Regions from separate parts of the Homo sapiens genome. Here region 1 is linked to region 2. The links come from fine-mapping of genetic effects on gene expression. Tissue or cell type: whole blood. Region 2 holds a variant in brackets; the other region holds the start of a gene. All regions are shown on one strand. Distances are between the middles of the regions.

The links. PIP is the estimated chance that this variant, and not a neighbour inherited with it, causes the effect.
Region 1: BBC3 starts here. The variant in region 2 is fine-mapped to the expression of BBC3 in whole blood (TOPMed, PIP above 0.99).

What each region holds. Positions count from the first base shown.
Region 1 is chr19:47,226,947-47,235,047 of GRCh38, reverse strand. BBC3 (BCL2 binding component 3) reads left to right here and starts at 3,849. Exons shown (of 4, transcript NM_014417.5): 1 at 3,849-4,119; 2 at 6,602-6,890. The coding sequence starts at 6,617. MIR3190 (microRNA 3190) reads right to left here; the gene lies at 8,027-8,101. MIR3191 (microRNA 3191) reads left to right here and starts at 8,029; the gene lies at 8,029-8,101. RefSeq lists enhancers at 2,313-2,582, 2,009-2,632, 3,342-3,461, 7,024-7,966 and silencers at 3,602-3,831, 3,972-4,691, 6,552-6,991.
Region 2 is chr19:47,176,834-47,184,936 of GRCh38, reverse strand. All of the region lies in intron 6 of SAE1 (SUMO1 activating enzyme subunit 1), which reads right to left. Among named protein-coding and RNA genes, the nearest start is that of MIR3190, 46 kb to the left of the region's middle. The variant T/C (reference allele first, on the strand shown) is at 3,791.

The DNA.
Region 1 (8,101 bases), 50 kb before region 2:
TGGCCAGGCTGGTCTCGAACTCCTGACCTTAGGTGATCCACCCACCTCGACCTCCCAAAGTGCTAGGATTACAGGCGTGAGCCCCTATGCCCGGCCTCAAAATTGTATTTTGTAGTGTGTTTTTTTTTTTGACAGAGTCTTGCTCCGTTGCCCTGTTTGGAGTGCAGTGGCACGATATCTGCTCATTGCAACCTCTGCCTCCTGAGTTCAAGTGATTCTCCCGTCTCAGCCTCCCGAGTAGCTGGGACTACAGGTGTGCGCCACCAATTTTTGGCTAACTTTTATATTTTTGGTAAAGACGGGGCTTCACCCTGTTGGCCAGGCTGGTGTCGAACTCCGGACCTTAAGTGATCCACTCGCCTCGGCCTCTCAAAGTGTTAGGATTACAGGCATGAGCCACCGTGCCCAGCCTGTAGTGTATTTTTGTTGTTGGCGTTTTGAGACGGAGTTTTGCCCTTGTCGCCCAGGCTGGAATGGAATGGCGCGATCTCGGCTCACCGAAACCTCCTTCCCTTGGGTTCAAGCAATTCTTCTGCCTCAAGCTCCCGAGTAGCTGGGATTACAGGCACCCACCACCATGCCCAGCTAATTTCTGTATTTTTAGTAGAGATGGGGTTTTACCATGATGGCCAGGCTAGTCTCAAACTCCTGACCTCAGGTGATCCACGTCCCCCGGCCTCCCAAAGTGCTAGGATTACAGGTGTGAGCCACCATGCCCGGCCTGTGGTGTATTTTTTTTTAACTCTGGTCAAAGCAGTCATGCACACCTATAATCCCAGCTACTAGGGAGGCTGAGGTGGGAGGATCGCTTGAGCGCAGGAGTTTGAAACCAGCCTGGGTAACACAGCCAGAATCTGTCTCAATTAAAACAACAACAAAACCTCTTGTCTAGGTCAGTAAAATTGCAGGTAGAAGTTGTGGTAATACAAAATTGTGTACTTTTATCACCACTTACACACCATACACCTAAAAAGAGTGAATATTCTTGTGTCTAAATACATCTCAGTAAAGCGCAAGTTGGTTGGGATGTGAATGCATCTTACTGAGTAAAATGCATTAAGTCAGCCGGGCATGGTGGTTCACACCTGTAATCCCAGCACTGAGGGAGGCGGAGGCAGGAGGTTTGCTTGAGCCCATAAGGTCAAGACCAGACTGGGCAACATAGCGAGACCGCCCATCTCTACAAAAAAATAAAAATTAGCTGGGCGTGGTGGTTTACACCTGTAGTCCCAGTTACTTGGGAGGCTGAGGCAGGAGGATCTCTGGAGCCCAGGAGTTTGAAGCTGCAAGGCTATTGTACCACAAGGCTATCCATTGTGCCACTACACTCCAATCTGGGCGACAGAGTGAATCTTTTATCTAAAAAAAAAAAAGGCTGGGCCAGGTGCAGTGGCTCACGCCATAATCCCAGCACTTTGGGAGGCCGAGGAGGGCAGATCACGAGGTCAGGAGATCGAGACCATCCTGGCTAACATGGTGAAACACTGTCTCTACTAAAAAATACAAAAAATTAGCCGGGTGTGGTGGCAGACGCCTGTACTCCCTGCTACTGGGGAGGCTGAGGCAGAAAGGCCTGAACCTGGGAGGCGGAGCTTGCAGTTTGCTGAGATCGTGCCACTGCACTCCAGTCTGGGCAACAGAGTGACATTCCGTCTCAAAAAAAAAAAAAAAAAAAAGCTGAGTGCAGTGGCTCACACCTGTAATCCCAGCACTTTGGGAGGCCAAGACAGGCGGATCCCGAGGTCAGGAGTTTGAGACCAGCCTGGCCAATATGGTGAAACCGCATCTCTACCAATAATACAAAAATTAGCTGGGCATAGTGGCGCACACCTGTAGTCCCAGCTACTAGGGAGGCTGAGGCAGAAGACTTGCTTGAACCCAGGAGGCGGAGGTGGCAATGAGCCGAGATCATGCCACTGAACTCCAGCCTGGGCGACAGCGCGAGACTCTGTCTCAAAAAAAAAAAAAAAAGTAAGATCCATGTAAGTGATGTCATATGTCATAATCCATGGTTTACTCATGACCCACAGTTTGGAAAACACCAGGAAGAAGGAAGGGACAATGAATAATCGGGGAAAGCGAAAGAGGAGGGAAAGTGAAAGAGGGAGGAAAGCTGAGGAGTTCCCAATGTTGCAAATGGGGAGATTTCACGTGAGATATAGATTACCTGCATCTCTTGGGGGAGCTAAGAGTGTGTACTTGGAGGCAGTCAAGTTTGAGAAGTCTGACATCCTTACTCAGCCAGCCCCACACTAGGCACTGGAAGGTGAGTCACTCTGGTGAGGCGATTGCGATTGGGTGAGACCCAGTAAGGATGGAAAGTGTAGAGGAGACAGGAATCCACGGCTTTGGAAAAAGGAAGGACAAAACTCACCAAACCAGAGCAGGGCAGGAAGTAACAATGAGAAACTGAAAAAGAAACGGAATGGAAAGCTATGAGACAGGATGAAATTTGGCATGGGGTCTGCCCAGGCATGTCCATGCCAGGTGCCCAGGGCTGCTTCCACGACGTGGGTCCCCTGCCAGATTTGTGGTGAGTGTGGCCAGGTGTGCATGCTCCGACGTGTGTGCAGTGGGCCAGTTAGCAAGAAGCTGTCACAGGTGTGACTTTGTGACATGTGTGGGTGGTCAGTTTCTTCTATGTCTGATTTGGTTTGTGTCTCTGAATGTCAGTTTCTTTCCTTTATTTTTATTTTTAAGACGGAGTTTGCTCTTGTTGCCCAGGCTAGAGTGCAATGGCACTATCTCGGCTCACTGCAACCTCCGCCTCCCGGGTTCAAGCAGTTCTCCTGCCTCAGCCTCCCAAGTAGCTGGGATTACAGGCATGCGCCACAACGCCCGGCTAATTTTGTATTTTTAGTAGAGATGGGGTTTCATCATGTTGGTCAGGCTGGTCTCGAATTCCTGACCTCAGGCAGTCCACGCACCTTGGCCTCCCAAAGTGCTGGGATTACAGGCATGAGCCACCGTGTCGGGCGAATGTCACTTTCTGATAGTTTTAATGTGTTAGCTGTGAAATTGTGTGAGTGCATTTGTGTATGTCCCTGTGGGAGTGTGATTTGGATTTGGCCGTGTATCCAGGTATCCCTGTAACAGGTGTCTGTGTGTATGTGTGTGTCCCCTGTGCCTATCAGCAAGTTTGTGTTTCCTGATAAGCACTCCGCCTATGTCTGTGTGGTTGCACCACCGTGTGTGTGGTGTGGGTGCCTGTTCGGTAGGGTTGTTTGTGAACACAGTTTGTGGGCCCAGGTGTGATCATCAGTGTGGGTGTTTCTGCAACTGTGTGTGGCCCTGTCATTGTGTCCGTCTGCTTGTCCAGGGGACCCTGTTAGTGAGTCTGTGCATTTCCGTCTGGGTGTGTGTAAGTGTGAGCCCCATCAGTATGTGAGTGTGTGTGCTCATGCCCCTGTCCATGGTGTGGATTTGCGAGACTGTGGCCTTGTGTCTGTGAGTACATCCTCTGGGCTCTGCCTGCACGTGACTTTGTGGACCCTGGAACGCCCGTCGGTCGGTCTGTGTACGCATCGCTGGGGGTGTGGATCTGTGGGTCCCAGTCAGTGTGTGTGTCCGACTGTCCCGGTGTCTGGGCGATCTCCCCACACCCCGCCGCACAGCGCCTGGGTCCTCCTTGCCTTGGGCTAGGCCCTGCCCCGTCCCCCGCTGCAGGGAAACCCCCGGCGCGGAGGTAGGGGGGGGCGCGGCGCGCGCCTGCAAGTCCTGACTTGTCCGCGGCGGGCGGGCGGGGCCGTAGCGTCACGCGGGGGCGGGGCGTGGGACCCGCCGGGCGGGGGCGGGGCGGGGCGGGGCGGGGCGGCTTTGGAGCGGGCCCGGGATCCGCCGGGCGGCCTGAGACGCGGCGCGAGCCACATGCGAGCGGGCGCCTGGCGGCGGCGGCGGCGGCACCAGCGATCCCAGCAGCGGCCACGACGCGGACGCGCCTGCGGCCCGGGGAGCAGCAGCAGCCACAGCCACAGCAGCCGCCACTGCAGTTAGAGCGGCAGCAGCAGCGACAGCCACAGCAGCAGCCGCCGCGGAGAGCGGCGCTCGGCGGGCGCGCCCTCCTGAAGGAAGCCGCCCGCCCCCCACCGCCGCCCCCTCCGGCGTGTTCATGCCCCCGGGGTGAGTGTGCGCGCCCCGAATCCTCTCCGGCGGCGATCGGCCAGGCCGGGTGGACTCCCTGGAGGAGGTGACAGGAGTGCAGGCGGAGAGCAGTGTGGGCGCCCTGCCTCCCCACACCGCGCCTCTCCAAACCCCGCGAGGGACCCTGGGCCAGGGTCGCCGGGTGAGAGGCGGCTCGGCGTTGGGGCGCCGGTCTGGGCGCACAGGTGCCTCGGCGGTCTGGCGGGTTTGTTTACAAACAATGGGGTGCGGGCTCGGCAGCGCCCCCTGGCGGCCAGTGCGGCCCCGGGGAAGAGGGTCGACCCCAGGGGTGCCCCAGCCCCCAAAGTCCGGGAGGGGCGGGGGGGCGGCACGGAGGGGCGGCCACACCCAGGGCGCGCGCCCGCTGGGGGCGGCGACGGGGGGCGGCTCGCGGGCCGTGGAGTCTGCGGCTCCTGCGGGCGGGGGCTGCGCCCCAGCAACAGCCGGTTATTGGCCCCGCGCTCGCCTGGCGGGCGGGGCGGGCGCACGTGGCGGCGGTGGGGGGGGCTGTGACAGCGGAGGGGGGTGTCTGGGACCGCCGTGGGAGCGCGCGTGTGCGGGGTTGTGGATCTGCAGGTGTCTCGCCTGGGTGTGTGCGCGTGTCTGGCTCCGAGTTTGTGCTGGGTTCTGCAGGGAGTGGTGGTGTCGATCCAGAGGAATGTTGGGGTTTCTGACCCGTCGGGGTGTCTGCGTGAGTCCCCGCGCCTGTTTGTGTGGGGTTCTGTCTGTGGGTGCCCTGCTTGTGGGGTGGGTGGACCTGCGTGTGTTGTCGGTGAGAGTTGTCTGTGTGTGCTGTTCCGGGATGATACTGGGGGTCTGTGGTGCCTGCGTGTGCTGGGGTGTGGAGGTTGTAGTGTGTGTGTGTTGCTGGAGTGAGCTGTTTGTGTGTTTATGTGTGTGTCTTGCCCGAGCGTGCGATATGTGTGCTTGTGTCTTGCCTGTGTGTTTCTGTCTTGGCTGAGGCCGTCTCTGTATCTCCGGGGCATGTGTCTTTTGCCCAGCGTTTGTGATGCTGCGCCTGCTAAATGCAAATGTCTGTTTTCTGTCCAGGTGTCTGTGTGAGTTGTCAGGTGTGAGTGTGTGTGTGTATGTATGTGTGTGGTGGGGGGTTGTTTCAGTCTGGGTTTGGCTTGTGTGTCTGGCATCAGCGTCTGGGATTTGAGGACCCAGGATCTGTGGGGTCTATGCAGTGTAGACGGTGGGTGTTGCTGGCAGCCTCTGGATGGGGTTGTGTCTGAGCCTGTGTGTGTGTGTGTGTGTTGGGTCTGAGGGGCTTGTCACTGTGATCGGCTGGCTCATGTGTGTCATGTGGGCTGCGTGTGTGTAGTGTTTATGTCAGTCACGTGAGACCAGTGTTTTCTGTGGGTGCGCTAGGTGTGTGTGCTGCTGGGCTGTGTGGGATTAGAGTTAGCTGTAGGGTGTGTGTGTGTGTGTGTTGCTGACAGTTGGTGATGATGTTTGAGGGTTGCGTGAGGAGGGTGGGTTGGTGTCTGGTGGTGTGTTGAGGTCTGATGGCATGTGTCTGTGTGTGCCTGATCTACGTGTGTCCTGAGAGTTGGTGACATGTGGGTGTGTTTTGGGGGTGTTGATGTATGTGTGTCCGTGGGTGTCTGTTTTGTGTTGATATGTGAGTCCAGAGGTGTGCAGGTCTTATCTCTGGAGTGAGTGTGTGTGTGTGGAGAGGGGCATGTTTGGGAACTGAGGCAGTGCCTAGCTTGTGTGTGTGTGTTTGTGTTTGCAAAGGCTGCATTGTGTTTGCATGTGCCCCTGGGCATATCAACAGTGGGTCAGTGTGTGAGACTTTGACAGTTTGGATGTGTGGGGATGGATTGTGCCAGCCAGTGTGCGCAGTATGTAGAGTGCTTGTGATGGTCTGTCTGGATGCTCCTGCTTTGGTCGGGGGTGTGTGTGTATTGTGTGTACTGAGTAGTGATGTCCGAGACTGGGGCCATCTCAGTGTTTGTGTGCAAGTGGGAGGTGGGGTGGGCGGTCAGGCTGGCCAGTCCCGTGTGAGTCCTTGTGTGTGTGCTGTGGGGGCCTCGCTGTGCCTCACTGCCCTCCCTGTGTGCCCGTCGCTGTGTTGGGAAAGTTGTCCCCACCAGCCCATGCTGTGAGTCCCAAGTGGAGTGAGTTTGTGTTGTGGGACTGTCACAGCCCTCATACACACACCTGCTAGACCCCTCCATCCGTCCTGTGTGAGCCCTGTCCTTGCTGTGAGAGCCGTCCTGTGCCCCCTGTCCCTCCTGTGTGCCCATCACCGTATGCACGGGAGGCTCTCCAGGCCAGCCAGGACCCGGTGGTGTCATCCCCCGGCTGGGCGTGTCTCTGTGGGGCCGTCACCCCCTCCGCATGCACACACACCTCCACTCTTCTCCATCTGGGTCCTAACCCCGGGTAGGCTGGAGGTACAGTGGGCCCTGGTACTTCCCTGCTGACCTGCTCCTCCTCCCGTGTCCCGCAGGCCCCAGGGAGCGCCATGGCCCGCGCACGCCAGGAGGGCAGCTCCCCGGAGCCCGTAGAGGGCCTGGCCCGCGACGGCCCGCGCCCCTTCCCGCTCGGCCGCCTGGTGCCCTCGGCAGTGTCCTGCGGCCTCTGCGAGCCCGGCCTGGCTGCCGCCCCCGCCGCCCCCACCCTGCTGCCCGCTGCCTACCTCTGCGCCCCCACCGCCCCACCCGCCGTCACCGCCGCCCTGGGGGGTTCCCGCTGGCCTGGGGGTCCCCGCAGCCGGCCCCGAGGCCCGCGCCCGGACGGTGAGTGCCCGCCCCGCCCCCGGGGTGATAGGAGCCGGGAAGAGAGAGGGCTGGAGACTCGGAGGAACTGGAGAAGTGGGAGAGGACGGGGGGAGGTGGCGGGCCCAGCCGGGCCACTGGGAGGGTGTGGCCAATGTGGTCTTTGTGTTGCAAGAAGCAGGAAGACGGAGGCTGGGGGTGGAGGGGGAGGTCAAGTGGGAAGTCCCTCCTGGAATCTGACTGCAGTCCCCGAATTGCAGCCCACTGTCTCTTCCGGGCCTGGGGCAACAGCTGCATCCCAGCTCCCCTCCCCCAGTCTGGGTCCTCTAGACCCCCTGGAGGATTCCTGTTGCAGGGAGAGTGGGCCGAGCGGGAGGACTGTCAACTCTGGCCTCTGGGGAGGGGTCGAGAGGCCTTTTGCTTTTATTTGCATCTCTTTGGCCAGGGGCTGTCCTCAGCAGTCCCGGCGGAGGAAGGAGAGGGGGAGGGGCCATTGTGTTGGGAAGTCCCCTCGGGGAGGTGGGGGAGTCTTGGGGAGGGAAGGGTTAAAGGTCCCCTGCCTGATGGGCTGTTAACCCTGTGGTGCCCGTGGAGCCCCATCCCTGCCGGCAGGCGCTCTAGGGAAAGTGTGTCCTGGTTTCCCATCCCCCATCTTGTCCCGGCAGCCCAAGGGGAGCGAGGAAAGAGAAAACTTCCCTAACTCAGTTCCTGGAAGCCCTGGAAGGGGACACCGATTTCAAGGCCAAGGTCACAGATGTGGAAACTGAGGCCCTGGCTGTAGGCCTTAGGGAACCCTCAGGCCAGGACCTGGTGGGACGGGAGGGCAGGAGCCTCCTAGGGCGCTCAGAAGTGGGGGGGGGGGGGGGGCAGGAAGGCATCTCCCGCGTCCCAGCCCCCCAGGCCCGCGCTCTGAAGCTGCCACAGTCTCTGGCCTTCTGGTCTCTAGGCCTCTGCCACATCCGGAGGTGTGGCTTCCCTGTGGTTGGACACGAGAGGGCAGGAGACCTGAGGCTTGTGATCTGGGTGGGGTCAGTCACTGTATCCCTGTGTGACCTTGGGATACTCCCTAAGGGCGGGCCTCAGTTTCCCTGCCTGTCACATGGAAAAGGCAAAATGTGGCCCCTTTGGAAAATAGAGGTCGTTAAGCCTGACCACCCCCGGGGTCACCTCTCTGGCCGTCTACCTTCCACACTGACAAGGGCCGTGGGGACGTAGCTGGCCAGACAGGTGAC
Region 2 (8,103 bases):
AGGCAGGAGAATCGCTTGAACTTGGGAGGTAGAGGTTTCAGTGAGCTATCACACCACTGCACTCCAGCCTGGGGGACAGAGTGAGACTGTCTCAAAAACAAAACAAAACAAAACAAAACAAAACAAAACAAAACAAAAACAAAACAAAAACAAAAAAAACCCCACAACCATGTCATATCCTACATTCAGACTGAGCTCTCCTACGTAAAAAAATACGACAGAACGAGGCCGGCAGTGGTGGCTCACGCCTGTAATCCCAGCACTTTGGGAGGCTGAGGTGGGTGGATCACCTGAGGTCAGGAGTTCAAGAGTAGCCTGGCCAACGTGGTGAAACCCCATCTCTACTAAAAATACAAAAACTAAATGGGCATGGTGGCGGGTGCCTGTCATCCCAGCTACTCGGGAAGTTGAGGCAGGAGAATCGCTTGAACCCAGGAGGTGGAGGTTGCAATGAGCCAAAATCACACCATTGCACTCCAGCCTGGGCGACAAGAGCAAGACTCCATCTAAAAAACAAACAAACAAGCAAAAAACAAAAAAGACAGAATGAGGTAGGTACAACTGTTACCACCCCCATTTTAGTGGTAGGAAAACTGGGGCTTAGGAGAGGCTTATGGTCACGACGGATTTAAAAGTCACCACATTCTTAACCTCTACGTTATAGTGTCACCTTTGGAAAAGAGAAGAAACAGAAGACATGCCAATTTTTACAAAAATCACTTTAAAATGGATTTGGCTCCCCTAACCCAGAGCCCATCAATTTAAAATAATACAAACCACCATTTCAGACTAGCCCCAGCCCAATATTCTATTCCTTTCCTTAAAAATGTCAGGCGATTCCAGAGCTTGACTCTCACCTTTAAGGTGAAACATTCTAACTAGTATGAAAAAACTAATTTACAAAAAGGAAAAAAAAATCTAAAAGTCACAGGGAAATAATGTGGACAACAAGAATAAACTTCCATGGGCCCCTAATGCATTGCTTTGCCAACCACACCCTCTGGTCACAGAACTGTTCTGACAGAGCCCTCTACATTCAGAGCCACCCTGCCTGGTCACAAGCAGCAGGGAGAGAGGGTCTTGTCTCCAGCCCAGCACTTGAGCAGCACATGACCTTGACTCTAGGCATCTGCTGCTCTCTGCCAACCCCTCTTGCCGAGGGAAGATGGCACAGGACATTCCCGTGACTGTTGTCTGACAGTCAGAGAAAAGATGTGAGGCTTTAAACAAGAATTGCAGCTGGGCCTTGGGGCCTGTGAGCAGCTCAAACACAGGCTACTGCCAAGTGGGTGGGGGAGTGGGGGAGATGTGGGCCTGCTAAGAAAAAAAGCAAGGCAGGTTGCTGACAATGTTGCCCATTATTGTAATCTGATCTTGGTGGGCCTCAGTTTCCCATCTGCAAAAGTGGAATAAGAAAATGTCACGAGGTGCCTGTGAAGTTTAGACAAAATAATCATCATAATGGTATTATTAGTAATGCTAATAATTAAAGTCTGACTGAGCACTTTGTTGGGCGATGCTTAAACACAAGGCCCTGGGGATGACAGTGTGACAGCTCTGGCTCGTTTAGACTCTAACACTTACTGCGTGTGATGACCCTGGACAAATGACTTAGCCCTTCCAAGATTCAATTTCCTCATGTGAAAACAGGACAAGACCTGATCTAGTAAGGCTGTCATGAAGATTTAATATGATCACAATGCATGTAAAGTACGTGAACCGGTCAGGCACAGTGGCTCACGCCTGTAATCCCAGCACTTTGGGAGGCCAAGGTGGGTGGATCACCTGAGGTCAAGAGTTTGAGACCAGCCTGGCCAACATGGTGAAAGCCCATCTCCACTAAAAATACAAAAATTAGCCGGACGTGGTGGTAGGCACCTGTAATCCCAGCTACTCGGGAGGCAGAGGCAGGAGAATTGCTTGAACCTGGGAGGCAGAGGTTGCAGTGAGCCAAGATTGTGCCACTGCACTCCAGCCTGGCTGACAGAACGAGACTGTTTCAAAAAAACAGTCAAAAAAAGAGACAGGGTGTTGCTATGTTGCCCATGTTGGTCTTGGACTATTGGCCTCAAGCAATCCTCCCACTTTGGCCTCCCAAAGGGCTGGGATTACAAGCCTGAGCCACCACACCCCGCCTGTAACCAGTAACTATTAATTCACAATGTGTGCCAGGCCTTCATCTAATCCTTCCAGTACTGTGTAGTATAGACTTGGTGCTGAACCTCTCTTGCAGACCGAGGAGCAGAGTCGGTGACTAACCAGTTCTGTTCTCTCATGAGCTCTCTGCTGTAAGGCACTGAGCCGCATTTGTGGGTCACCTCTGCCCTTCTCCTCACCTCTCCTGTTTCCATGGTGGTGCCTTCTTCCTTTCTGAATGACTGTGGTCTGCATTCTCTACCACTGATAAGGCAGTGGTGTGCGCGCGCGCGTGCGTGCGCGCACACACACACACACACACACACACACACACACTACGCTTTTTTCTTTTTCCTTACAAATTATTTTTAAACATCTGTGGTCATGACAGCAGCAAATCAACAAGCACTCAGCTGCTGCCCCATTATCGGAACCCATTTCCCTGTGGCTGTCTCTTTCTCAGCAGTTTTTGTCATTACTGGACACCAAAAACCCACTGGGGAATGTCATACCCAAATAGCGATGGCTGCCTATGGCCTGCTTTGCAAAGGTTACAAGTTCTAAAATAAGAAGTTTCTTCTGAAGAGAACTAATCACCAAATCCAGCCGGCATCCAAAGACAACGTCATTTAAAAATCACAAAACAGGAAAGTTGGGAGTGTGAATGAGGGGAAATTGAAGAATGAGGAAAGAAAATTTTCTAAATTATCTAACAGGCTGGGTGCAGTGGCTCACGTCTGTTATCCCAATGCTTTGGGAGGCAGAAGTGGGAGGATCACTTGAGCCCAGGAGTTCAAGACCAGCCTAGGCCATGGAGTGAGGCCTCTCTACAATAAAATTAAAAATTTAGCCTACAATAATCCCACCTACTCAGAAGGGTGATGTGGGAGGATCGCTTGAGTCCAGGAGGCTGAGGCTGCAGCAAGCTGTGATCATACCACTGCACTACAGCCTTAGAGCAAGACTCTGTCTTAAAAAAAAAAAAAATTCTGTAAAATTAAAAAAAAAAAAAAAAAAAAAGAGGCCAGGTGCACTGGCTCACACTTATAATCCCAGCACTTCAGGAGGCTGAGGTGGGAGGATCACCTGAGGCTAGGAGTTCGAGACCAGCCTGGCTAACATGGCGAAACCCCATCTCTACCAAAAATACAAAAATTAGCCAGGTGTGGTGGCGGGCACCTGTAGTCCCAGCTACCTGGGAGGGGGAGGCAGGAGAATGGCGTAAACCTATGAGGTGGAGCTTGCAGTGAGCCGAGATGATGCCACTGCACTCCAGCATGGGCGACAGAGTGAGACTCCATCTCAAAAAAAAAAAAAAAAAAAAGGAAAAGAAAAAACAAGAAAAACAAAACAAAAACCATTCTCTTAAATAACCATGAGACAATTATCATAACTGTAAAAATAAATAACATGGAAACAGTACTGCTATCTAACCTACAGACCTTTTTATTTGTTTTTTATTTTATTATTATTATTACTATTTTGAGATAGAGTTTCGCTCTTGTTGCCCAAGCTGGAGTGCAATGGCGCGATCTCGGCTCACCACAACCTCCGCCTCCTGGGTTCAAGCGATTCTCCTGCCTCAGCTTCCCAAGTAGCTGGGATTACAGGCATGCACCACCACGCCTGGCTAATTTTGTATTTTTAGTAGAGA[T/C]GGGGTTTCTCCATGTTGGGCAGGCTGGTCTCGAACTCCCGACCTCAGGTGATCCACCTGCCTCGGCTTCCCAAAGTGCTGGGATTATAGGCGTGAGCCACCACGCCGGGGCCTCTTTTTACCAATTGTTCCACTAACATCCTTTAGAGCAAAAGAAAAAAAACCTTCCTCTATTCTCAGATCCAACCCAGGGTTACATATTCCAAGAGGCATGAGGTCTAACTGTCCATCCCTAGATTGTTAATTTCATCACTCAGCTGAGGTACAACCTGCCAGGGTTCTCCAATGTCTCTCTATGTAATTCATTTAAAAGCATCTTCTTTTTCGGGGGAGACAAAGTCTTGCTCCCAGGCTGGAGTGCAGTGGTGCAATCACAACTCACTGCAGCTTCGACCTCCTGCGCTCAACCGATCCTCCCATCTCATCCTCCTGAGTAGCTAGGACTACATGCATGCACCACTGTATCTGGCTAACTTTTTTATTTTTTGTAGAGATGGGGTCTCGTTTTGTTGCCCAGGCTGGTCTCAAAACTCCTGGGTGCAAGTGATCAATTTGCCTCAGCCTCTTGGGATTTATAGGGGTGAGCCACCAGGCATAGCATAAAAGCATCTGATAAGGAAACATCTACACTGTTTCACCGCAAACTGTTCCCCATTGATTTTAGCACTTTGATTCTTGATTGAAACAATTGTTACTACTATGGTGATAGTCAAAGATAGACTTTGTTATCTTCATAATTCCTTGTTTACATTAATTGATTATTCTTCTTGTTCTTTTGACATGCCCCTATCATTCTTAGAGCACTTCCTTACTTTCTGGCATAGCAGGATATTCCAAGCTCACCTGTAATTTTCCTACCCCAGATCTGGAAACAGCCATTTCTCCAAGGAACCCTGGTTTCTCTTTAGTGAGGAAAGGTATTAACATCTTGGCATGAGTGCGTTCAGTGCTTCTGGGATGTCTCTGGGCATAAACCCTCTCAACAATTCTAGGAAACAATTCTAGGAAATAAACACGTGTAAAAGTGGATATGCATACACACATACATCTATTACTACATCTACGTATAAGAAACCATGAGTTCATCCAGATAACTTCAATTCCAATCCAATACCACATGGCTCCTTCTAGCCTTTCCCACTGTCCACATTCATAGGAACACCCTTTTCTGACAATAAGAAAACTTGATTCTCACTATTAACACTATACTTACCTATCTGCTCAATCTTAGAAGAACAGTAAGTAGTTTCAGAATTGCTAACCCCTATCACTGTGAAAAACAAACCTACTAGGCCAGGCAAAGTGGCTCACACCTGTAATCCCAACACTTTGGGCAGGAGGCTCACTTCAGCCCAGGAGACAGAGACTACCCTGGGCAACACAGTGAAACCCCGTCTCTACAAATAATACCAAAATCAGCTGGGTGTGGTATTGCATGCCTGTAATCCCTGCTACTTGCCTATAATCCCAGCTACTTGGGAGGCTGTGATGTGAGGATTGCTTGAGCTGGGAGGGAGAAGCTGCAGTAAGTTATGATCGTGACACTGCACTCCAGCCTGGGGTACAGAGCAAGACCTCATCTGAAAACAAAATCCCTACTAAGCAGAGTTCAATATTTATTTAGAGTTTTTCTTTTTTTTTTTTTCTTAAGATGCTCTGTCACCCAGGCTGGAGTGCAATGGAGCAACCTCGGCTCACTGCAACCTCTGCCTCCAGGGTTCAAGCAATTCTCCTGCCTCAGCCTCCCAAGTAGCTAGGATTATAGGAGTGTGCCACCATGTCTGGCTAATTTTTTTGTACTTTAGTAGAGACAGGGTTTCACCATGTTGCCCAGGCTGGTCTCAAACTTCTGAGCTCAGGCAATCCACCTGCTTCAGCCTCCCAAAGTGCTAGGATTACAGGCGTGAGCCATCGCGACCGGCTAGAGATTTTTCTTTCTTTTTTTTTTTTTTTTGGAGACAGAGCCTTGTTCTGTCGCCCATGCTGGAGTGCAGTGGTGAGATCTCGGCTCACTGCAAGCTCTGCCTCCCGGGTTCACACCATTCTCCTGCCTCAGCCTCCCAAGTAGCTGAGACTACAGACGCCCGCCACCACGCCCGGCTAATTTTTGTATTTTTAGTAGAGACGAGGTTTCACCGTGTCAGCCAGGATGGTCTCGATCTCCTGACCCTGTGAGCCACCCACCTCAGCCTCCCAAAGTGCTGGGATTACAGGCATAAGCCACCGCGCCAGGTGAGATTTTTCTTTACTTTGAGGGTATGCAGTCAAAATACTATATTGAACAGCTACTTGGGTTAGCTCCTTTTTCCTCCCTGCTTCAGTGCACAAATGTAATTTGAAATACAGTGCTTAACACATTTTAAAAGAAAAACGCAGGCTATGCACGATGGCTCATGCCTATAAACTCAGCACCTGGAAGGCCGAGGTGCATGGATCACTTGAGGTCAAGAGTTCGAGACCAGCCTGGCCAACATGGCGAAACCCTGTCTCCACTAAAAATACAAAAATTAGCCAGGCATGGTGGCGTGTGCCTGTGATCCCCACTACTTGGAGGCTGAGGCAGGAGAATTGCACGAATCCAAAAGGCGGAGGTTGCAATGAGCTGAGATTGCACCTGCAACTCCAGCCTGGGCAACAAAGCTAGACTCTGTCTCAAAAATAAAATAAACATAAACGAGTAAGCAAAGGCTTTGACCTGGGAAATGGGCTTCCCTTTCCTATGACAGTACTTTCCCCTAACTTGGCTGATTTGAGAAACCTGGGTGCTATAGAAAAATGCAGACATGCAAGTCACTCCTAGCTATCTGGATTCAGTAATGTGAGCTACAAGCAGGCACTCCGCATTTTTCAACGGTTTCCTCAGTGATTCTGACTGATAGATAGATAGATTTCTTTTTTTTTTTTGGAGATGGAGTCTTGCCCTGTCGTCAGGCTGGAGTGCAGTGGCGCGACCTCAGCTCACTGCAACCTCTGCCTTCCAGGTTTTCAAGCGATTCTCCTGCCTCCCCCTCCCGAGTAGCTGGGACTACAGGCGCACACCACCATGCCCAGCTAATTTTTGTATTTTTAGTAGAGATGGGGTTTCACTATGTTGGCCAGGATGGTCTCGATCTCTTGACCTCATGATCTGCCCACCTCAGTCTCTCAAAGTGCTGGGATTACAGGCGTGAGCCACCGCGCCTGGCCAGATTCTGATATTCTATCAATAGGGAAACCACTAGCCTGCTCTCTCCAAGCTCCAGTCCCCTCCGAGGCTCAGCCTCTATCCTGCTGGCCCTGTGCATGTGTTGCTCTGCAATATTCTTCCCTCTTTCCCACCTGGCAAATACCTGTTCCGAGAAATACAGCTCAGATCTCCCCTCCTCTGTCAAGACTTCACAACTCCCCAAAGATGGTCAGACCTTCAGTTTCCTAAGTTCCCATAATAAATTACTTTGATTATTATGGAATAATGCAAATGTATTTAAAAACAGAACAACGAGCCAGGCAGGGTGGTGCTTTCCTATAGTCCCTCTTTGGGAAACTGAGGTGAGAGGATTTCTTGAGGCCAGGAGTTCAAGGCCAGCCTGGGCAACATAGCAAGACCTCCCTGCCCCAATCTGTACAAACAGATTTTTTAAAATAGCTGGACATGGTGGCACACGCCTGTAGTCCCAGCTACTTTGCAGGTCGAGGTGAGAGGATAACTTGAGCCCAGGAGTTCAAGGCTATAGTGAGTTATGATTGTGCCACCACACTCCAGCCTGGAAAGCAGAGCAAGACCCTGTTTTGGGGGGGAAAAAAAACAAACAAAAACCAGGAACAACACATGATAGTTTCTATAGCCCTCTGTTATAGCTGTCCTCACAAGGAGTAGAATTATTTGTTTGTCTTTCACATTGGCAAGAACACTTATTCTATTCCTCTTCCTCTGATTAGTCCCAGCTATGAGATCTGGTACATAGCAGGTGCTCACAAAATGTTTGGTCTAAGAATATTTTCAGCTTCAATTCTGTGGCTCAAAGATGGTCTAAGTACTTTTCCATAACTCATCAGAACAGAGACTGAGCAAGTTAAGATTGCCAAGAATTCTCTGATAAGTATTCTCATCTTGAGATGAAGTCCATTTCTTCCTGCTCTAGGCTAAACCTGTATGTTATTGTTCATGCTGGTAAGTGAATGCTGTTTCCATACCAGACTCGGTATTTTTAGCACTCCTGTTATGATAAACTCACAGTAACCTCAAAAAGAACAAATCAAAGTCATTTTTTTGCCACAGGAAACCAGCTCACGCTTACTGTTTTGCAACATGCCATGGGAGAATAATAAAAAGA